Regions from separate parts of the Homo sapiens genome. Here regions 2 and 3 are each linked to region 1. The links come from fine-mapping of genetic effects on gene expression. A gene starts in region 1. Each other region holds a variant in brackets. All regions are shown on one strand. Distances are from middle to middle.

Region 1 (2,841 bases):
ATCCAGCCAGGGGCTGGGAATTGCTGGAAGGAGGGGCAGGTGAGAGGGATCTGTTCCTTCCCATCCTGAAGTGGCCTGGGAGCGATGAGGGGAACAGCGGAGGCACCAAGGCCTGCCAGAAGGCTGGCCCCTCATCTGTGCATCTGTGTCTTGGCCACTTGCTGGCCTCTGAGCTGCCCCTTGTTTTTCAGATGAGGAGCGGAGGCCCTGGGAAGGCAGGACCTCTGCAGCTCTGTTCAGGCCTATCAACCTGTGCACCCCTGCCTCCCGCCCCCAGCCAGGTACGACAGCCAGAAGTCTGAAGGGCCATGAGACCAAGGCAGGACTTAGTCCAGGTACTGAAGCCTCAAGCACTGCTGGATGGGGTGTGAGAGGCCCTCTCTCGGGGCTCACAGCTTTGGGGCCTCCCATGATGCCAAGGCTTCGTGCCGACGGCTCAGCAAGAACACAACTCCTACCATGCCTCAGATGTCCCAAAGCCGGGACACACCCACCACCTACTTTATCTGAGTCCCCAGCAGCCCTGGGTGGGAGGCAGCTTGACGTGTCACCCCCTTAAACCGACAGAGTACCCAGGTGTCCCCAGCTCAGAAGTGGCAGATCAGGCAGGAGCACCTGAGCTTTCGGCCTTTTTGTAAGGCAAGGTATCCCTCTGCCTTTCCAAAGAGGACAGACTCTTGGCTCCCTCTGCCCCCATCAAAACAATCCAGCCACAGAGCTGGTGCAGTGCCGATCCTGTCGATAACACCCAGTGACACCTGATTCGGCGCCTTCTGTCTGAGTGTGAGCAGCCACCATCCTCATGGCCCTCCCCAAGATTGCCCTGTACCCAGCACATGCACCTCACAGGCCCCAGGGCGATTGAGGGGATCCTCTGGGTGAGCCAGCCTCTGGGTCTCAGTTTCCTCATCTATAAAATGGGCACAGGGGGACGGAGGGATATGAGATTCCCTGATTCTTAAAGGCCTGCAGTCAACTCTCAGAGCATCCTGGCCCCTCGCCGTTTACTAACAATTAAACCGTGTCTTTCCTAAAGGGCAAGACAGAGGGATCAGGCTGGCAAGGGGGACACTTGCCTCTGTAGGGGACGCTGGCCTCCTCTGCCTGTCAGTCTTTTCACTCACAGCGAAAACCAGAAATCCACTGACTCCCGGGGGGAACCCGAAGAGAGATGCTTGGAGCTGGTAAGGGTTATGGATGGGGAAACTGAGGCCCTGACTTGTCCCCAGCTGGGCACGGACTGGGTGCCCCCCACTGCCTCCAAGCAGGGCCGCATCCAATGGCGACTCGACAGCCCTACCTGGCACCGGTGCCCGGCTCGTGGGGCGGGTGGAGGGTCGGGCAGTCGCAGGGCGCGGGCTCCCTCGGGTGGACGGCGCCCGGCCGGGCCGGGCCGGGCCGGGGAGGCAGGCGCGGGGCGCGGGGCGCGGTGCACAGCGGGGAGCGCGCAGGGAGGCGAGGAGGCGCGGACTGGGCTCCGCCCGCAGGAGAACAAACAGGTTTTCTCCGGCCGCCCGGAGCCTCGCCCCTCGCCCCTCCCCTCGGCCGGCCCCTTCCTCTGCCCCTCCTGGGGTAGGTAGAGGCGCCTGGCACATTCCGCACATTCTCCCGCCAGCGTCCTCCGCCCGCCCGCCCCTTCTCGGCCCCGCCCCGCGGGGCTGCTGGAGAAATCAAGTCTGGGGCTCCCCTTGTCGAGCACGGGGCGAGCTCCAGAAGGCTCTGCCGTGATGGAAAACTTCCAGGCAAATTCCTCCGGGCCCGTGGCCCCCAGGCCGGGAAGCCTCCGCCACGTGAAGGGCCCCCGCTCCTAGTTGCGCGATCTGGCCCCGGCACAGGGCCAACGACTTCCACAGATGCTGTCGGGTTAATTCAGTCGAGAACTACCGTTCCTAGATCCATTTTACAGATGGAGATCCCAGACAGGGGCGGGGAGGGGGGCGGGGGGCTGGCGGCTGAGATCATCCAGGAAGTCCTGCAGGCAGGAAAGGAGGAGAAGAGTGAGGGAGCCGCTCATCGTGGAAGGCCATCCTGGGACGGACCCGGGGCTCACAAGGCACAGCAAACGGGGCTATCTCCCAGGCTGGGCGACGAGATACAGCCAGACTCCCAGAGCCAATGCGGTTTGATGTACCTGTGTCACGCGTTGGTGCTCACCGAGTGCTTTATTGTGTGCAAGGCCCTGGGCTGGGGCTAAGGATGGAGAGAGCATGGAGGAAAGACCCCTCACCCCACGGCCTCCCAAACAGGGAGACAATTAAGCCAGCCCAAGAAATGGCATGGACTTGGCCAGGAGTTGGCCTACCAGGGTGGTAGGCTCAAAAGAATGGACCAGCTGCTTCTCCTTCATCAAGGCCTGCCAATGTGGTGTTTCCATGGCCCTCCAGTCCACCCACTTCTCCCTGTGCCTGCTGCCACCACCCTAGTCCAGACCTGGCCCCGAAGACCAGCCTCCTTGCTGGTGTCCCCCTGCCTCTGGTCTTGCCTTCCTTTCCCTCAGTCTCTACACGGAGGTCAGGTTAAAAGTTCACGTGTGTCAATATGATCAGGTGCTCTCCTGCTTGCAACTCCTCCATGGCTTCCCATTGCTCTCAGGGTAAAAGCCAGACTCCTTGAGACGACCTATCCCTGCAGGTCCAGCCACTCTTCCCTTTGTTCAATACATTACAGCCACACTGGCCTTTTTCCATTGCCTTCTGAATACATCACATGGCGCTCACCTTGGGGTGTTTGCTCCTGCTCCTCGGACTCCCTAAAATGCTCTTCATCCCCGTCGGGCTAGTGAGCTCTTAGTCATTCTTCAAGCCTCCACCCAGTGTCCGGAAAGCCTCCCCTGCCTGCCAC
Region 2 (2,500 bases), 95 kb before region 1:
AAATCAGGAGAATAATGGGAGAATGGAATATTTTCAGTCATCTGGCTCTCAGTGAGCAGCGAAAAAAAACTAATGCCCTTGTGAAATGCAGGCAGTAGCTGTATTTTTTGCCCTCCTCCCCTAGAACAGTCCAATAAAAAATAAACGAGGGCTATGACTCGTTTATAAGGGCGCTCACGTGGCCTATACGTTGCACTGGGTGATTTGCACCCGGCCCTTCACCCATGGGCTTGGGACGCCACAGCTCCCCTCCAATGAGGAAGAGCCACAGTGGCTGCTGGGCCAAATGGCACGTGGCGAGCCTGGCTGCCACCGTCGTCGGCACGGGGGTGGGTGGGGTGAGGAACCACCTTGCAGGAAGTAGGAGGGTTTATGTCACCAGTGCGCAACCGTGAGCGGGCCGTGTGCAGTTCCGCTCATGGGGTAGGGGGGCGGTCGTCACCAGACAACCTCTTCCCGCCACAGCCTCGTGGCGCAGTCAGCACGGAGGCGGCAGCCGCCATAGACGTGTGGTGGTCGCGCTGCGCGGGAACTCCGGCTTGGAGGCACCTCCGGCAGGTACGGAGCTGGACCCCGGGCTCGGACAGCAACCCAGATTACGGGGGAACCCCCCAGTAACTCTTGCTATTTTCCACGGGGTCTAGGGGCTGGTGGCCATAGGTTTCCCTGGAGGCGGGATCCCACTAGATCACACCCAGCACGCCAAGGAATCCCTGCCATTTCCAGGCAGAACTTCAGGGAGACCTGGCCGGGCGCGGTGGCTCACACCTGTAATCCCAGCACTTTGGGAGGCCGAGGCGGGTGGATCACCTGAGGTCAGGAGTTGGAGACCAGCCTGGCCAACATGGGGAAACCCCGTTTCTACTAAAAATACAAAAAGTAGCCGGGCGTGGTGGTGTACGCCTGTAATCCCAGCTACTCAGGAGGCTGAGGCCGGAGAATCACTTGAACCCAGGGGGCGGAGGTTGCAGTGAGCCGAGATACGCTACTGCACTCCAGCCTGGGTGACAAAGCCAGACTCCGTTTCAGAGAAAAACAAACAAACTTCAGGGAGACCTATTCCACCCTTGACCTGCCCGGAGACACTGCAGTCAGGATAGTAGCTCTTGGCCCTTGCCCTTGAGGGAAAGTGGCTTCGAACCTTCCCCTCCTAGATTCTGCCTGCTTCCACTGATGTCGGTGGTGTGGGTGTATGTAGATAACCGGGTGGGGATTGGGGGGA[G/A]CAGGGGAATGGAGGTAGGGGATTTGGGGATATCAGTTAGACTTGCCTCGGGGTAGGAGTTGGACTTGGTGAGGGGGCAGGGCTTGGGGTAGGAGTTGGACTGTGGGTGGGGGCAGGGCTTGAGGCACGAGTTAGACTTGGGTGGTGGAAGGGGTTAGACTTGGTGGGGGGCTAAGCTTGGGGTAGAGGTGCAACTTAGTTATAGGCAGAGTTTGGCAGCAGGGGTGCAGGTTTTGAGGTGGGGCTTAGGAAGGGTTGCAACATGGCTGTAGGGGCGGAGCTTGGGAGGGAATGGAGTTTGCAGTGGGGGTAGGGCAGCAACCTTACCTTAGGATCCCTTCTGCCCTACCAGCAGCCCCCCTGCCCCCACCCCCTACCTCCCTCCTCACCTCCCACCCCTCTCACCATTCGTCCCCCGACTCCTCCCCCCGCTCCGCTCCCTCTGTCAGTTGAGCAGTTTCTTCTATCCCTGCACCAGGGTCCTAGTGAACACCTATGCAGAGTCTGAATTGGCATGGCCTGGGCAGGGACATGTGTGTGGGACAGAATCACAGCAAAATACCTCTGCTTTGCCTTGGACAGATCCAGTGAAGCAGGACCCATCACGCCTGAGTCAGGAACTGCCTAACTGGATAGAGTTGAAAAGCAGAGCGAGTCTGAAGTGGCTGTGTTATTGCAGCATCCGCGCTGCCAGCAGGGCCAACCCAGCAAGGTGAGCAGCTGTGAGTTGGGCCCTGTTGGGAGGGGCTCTGGAACCCTGGCAAAGAGTGGGGAGAGGGGACTGCCTGCCAGGGTTCACAGACTCTGCAGGGTAGGGCCATCTCTAGGGCAAGAGTTGTTGGTTTCCTGCAGTCTGGCAGTGGGGACCTTATCTGGGTCCCTTTTCTGCCTGATTTCAGCTTCCACACAATTGAAACCATGAGCTCCTGTCCTTTCAGCACTCACTCCTCATGCCCATCTCGCCTTCCCTCTCCCACCCTCCTTTTTGCTAGTACGCTTTATTGGTTGGAGGCCAATGACATCACCTGTTGCTTTTCAAGGACCTTGGCCTTACCACATGACACTCCCCTGCAATAGCAACCCATGGTCCATGGTATTCTCTGTATCCATGGCAACACTGCAGCTTGTCACACAATCTCCACACCCACCACTCTCATTGCATTGCGCAGAGCTCAGCCATCTTTCTCATCCGTCAGGCATTCCTGAGAAAGAGGGCCACTCTACCTCTCTTGCTGCCAGCCTTCACTCCAGCAAGGAGGGTGCTGGGTGACCTGAGCC
Region 3 (2,841 bases), 48 kb after region 1:
GAGCTGAAATCACTGAGAAATGATGTGGAGTCACTGGGAAGGGGAGCAGGCGGCTGTGGGTGGCCACCACAAGGAGGGAACGGTGTCGGGGTTTGTACAGTCTGAGGGTATCCTCTTCAAAGCTGGAGAGGCTTAGAGCAGCATGAGGGAGAACGGTTCGGAGGCAGCAATGATGAGCATGAAAGATGTCTACCCCATCTCCAGGCCTGGAGGTGTGGGCAGCACGGGAGAGAAAACAACCGTAACTTTGCAGCGGAAGCAATGGCCTTAATATTTCATCAACAAACCATATAGCGAATGACACCAAAGCCAAGAATAAGGGCCCAGTGACAGGCTGAGGGAAGCCATCCATAATAAGTACAACGGGCACAGGATTGGCATCCCAACTAGATCAACAAGGAAGCAAAGGTAACCCCAAAGACAAAGGGGCAAAGGACACAGACAAACATTTCACACAGGAGGAAGCCTGAAAGCCGATCACCCAGTGGCAGAGTGGCTGGTTACTTGGTCAGGGAGGACATGTGACTCTGAACATCAGTGAAGCACCACTTCATACTTCTCAGAATGGCAACACCAAAAAGTCTAGTTATGCCCAGTGTTGGCAAAGATGTGAAGCAATGGGGCTTGTGCCACATTGTGGATATGGAGGTAAAATTGACATAGCAGCTTTGCTGAGCCATTTGGCACCATCTAATAAAATTCAAGATATTCATACCTGTACAACATGGATGAAGCTTGAAAACATCATGCTAAGTGAAAAAAGTCAGGCACAGAGGTACAAATATTACATGATTCCATTTATATGAAATGTCCAGAAGAGGCCAATCCATAGATGGGAAGTAGATGAGTGGCGGCCAGGGGCTGGGAGGGGAAGAGAGGGGATGGCTACAAGATTTCATTTTGGGGTAATACAAATATTCTGGAGTTAGATCATGGGAGACAGTTGCACAGCTTTGTGGATGTACTGAAAATCACTGAATTGCACACTTTAAAAATGTGAAATTTGTGGTACATGAATTATATCTCAATTAAAAAATCAAGACCCTGTGGCCCAGCACACACTTGTTTTGCAGTTGGAACAATACAGCCCATGGACGGCTTTTGAAGTCAAGTTTCACTGGCATACAGCCACAGCCATTTGTTCATTTAAGTGCTGACCATGGCTGCTTTTGTGCTACCAGGACACAGCTGAGTATCTGTGACAGAGATGATGGTTATTCATTCTAAGCAGTAAGAATGTGGTGTTCTTTCCTATAACTTTGAAAATTTTCACAATGAAACAATTGTTTTTCAAACAAATTGGCTGGCTTCTGAGCAAGGGAAGTATCGTGGTTTCCCTTCGTGGGCTCGTGGGAAATCAGCAAGGCTGCATGGTCCATTACCTGTCGGCTGCAGAGGTCACCCAGAAAGAACCGCACCTGGGGATTATCAAACCCTTGCTGGATATCAAATACATTGACAGCATATCCTCTTGCCAGCAACTGCTCCACCATGTGCTGCCCCAGGAATCCAGAGCC[A/C]CCGATCACTGTGCATCTCTTGGCCTGTGGAAAGAGAGGAACGGTGGGGAAGACCAGGGTAGTGAGGACTGGAAGCTACAGAGTCCAGACTTACATATCATGAGCCACTGCAATGGCAGATATACTTGTTTGTTTGGAACTCTTCTTGAGCCAAGTTGGAAGCTTTATATCATCCTGGTGTTCCATCACTAGTGCAACCCTAACCTTCTCTCCTGGGATCAGTAAGGAGGGAAGAGAGATAGCGAATGACACTGAGATTGACTTTGGTTGGGTTTGATGACAAGATCCATGCTTTGTATTCAGTGAAAGGAAATCAAACCACCTATGACCAAAACTGGACAATCTAAAAAATACCCCAAAAAACAGTGATACCTTCTTGTTCCCGATAGCTGATCCCTGGGCGCTTCTCTAAGGACAAAACAAAACAAAACAAAACGGCAGCCATTTGGTAGCTGATAGCTTGCACTGAAAACAACAGAAAGAAGAAAGCAGTCTCCATACTTGCAGGACAAAGTCAGTCCCTTTCCCTCTCTGGCCACAACAGGGCTGGGCTGTGTGGCTCTGGGCTCATCGCCCAACCCCTTCTTGCCTCAGCCTAGAAATCTAAGACCGCCTTGATGGGATCTCCTGGTGGGGCTGCAGTGAGGATGGATGAGCCCAGGGCTCTGCTTTCCCTCCTCCGAACTACAAGGAAGTTGAAGAAATGGGGAGAGCCATGGTGTTTATGTCTCAGCCTCCACAACACACACGATTCCTTGGGTAATTCCAACTCTGGTGACTGGGCATAATGAAAGGACACAGTAGCACATGCAGGCACTTAAATACCCTCATTTCAGGATGTTGATGCCAAACTGTGGCTGCTGCACACCAGACAAGCTGGCTATGGGTGTCTGTGAGGAGGACCTGTGATATCCCTCCTCCCTAGGGTCTTTCTAAAACTGTATCTGGGCCTCCTTAAGATGACAACCTCCAATTTCCTTAGCTCATATACAGTAAATCCAACTTGGGTTTGTGGAAATGAAAGATCTTAAAGAAATTATGTTCTAGATTTAAAAAACAAACAAATCTCCCTACTTATTCCTTAAACATCAACACAATTGAGCTATGCAAGAGACTCAAGGGATGCCAGGGCCAGACATCCTCTCTAGATCCACCTCCCTCCCAGTTGGGGTGTCCCATCTGAAACAGCACTCATACTGGATTCCACCAGGCCCAGCTGGAGCTGGCACTGTACTTTACCTTCATCTGTCCATGTGCAATCTACTAACAAAATCAGCCTCACCATTCTTCTACCACCCAAAACTAACTTCCCAACCTGTTCTTT

Alleles and levels. Alleles are on the strand shown, and positions count from the first base shown. SD is a standard deviation of normalised expression in the study named. Not every link is listed here.
In carriers of allele G in region 2, the expression in esophagus muscle of the gene that starts at base 1,472 in region 1 tends to be higher than with A alone (small effect, 0.19 SD a copy in GTEx).

What was found. PIP is the estimated chance that this variant, and not a neighbour inherited with it, causes the effect.
Region 2: its variant is the best candidate, but not a certain one, in a credible set for the expression of ZNF185 in esophagus muscle (GTEx, PIP 0.77).
Region 3: its variant is the best candidate, but not a certain one, in a credible set for the expression of ZNF185 in thyroid (GTEx, PIP 0.54).

What each region holds. Positions count from the first base shown.
Region 1 is chrX:152,896,698-152,899,538 of GRCh38, reverse strand. ZNF185 (zinc finger protein 185 with LIM domain) reads right to left here and starts at 1,472. Exons shown (of 25, transcript NM_001395254.1): 1 at 1,301-1,472. RefSeq lists an enhancer at 1,720-2,220.
Region 2 is chrX:152,992,091-152,994,590 of GRCh38, reverse strand. PNMA5 (PNMA family member 5) reads left to right here and starts at 475. Exons shown (of 4, transcript NM_001184924.2): 1 at 475-558; 2 at 1,805-1,934. The variant G/A (reference allele first, on the strand shown) is at 1,223.
Region 3 is chrX:152,848,965-152,851,805 of GRCh38, reverse strand. NSDHL (NAD(P) dependent 3-beta-hydroxysteroid dehydrogenase NSDHL) reads right to left here. Exons shown (of 8, transcript NM_015922.3): 3 at 1,383-1,541. Among named protein-coding and RNA genes, the nearest start is that of NSDHL, 19 kb to the right of the region's middle. The variant A/C (reference allele first, on the strand shown) is at 1,518.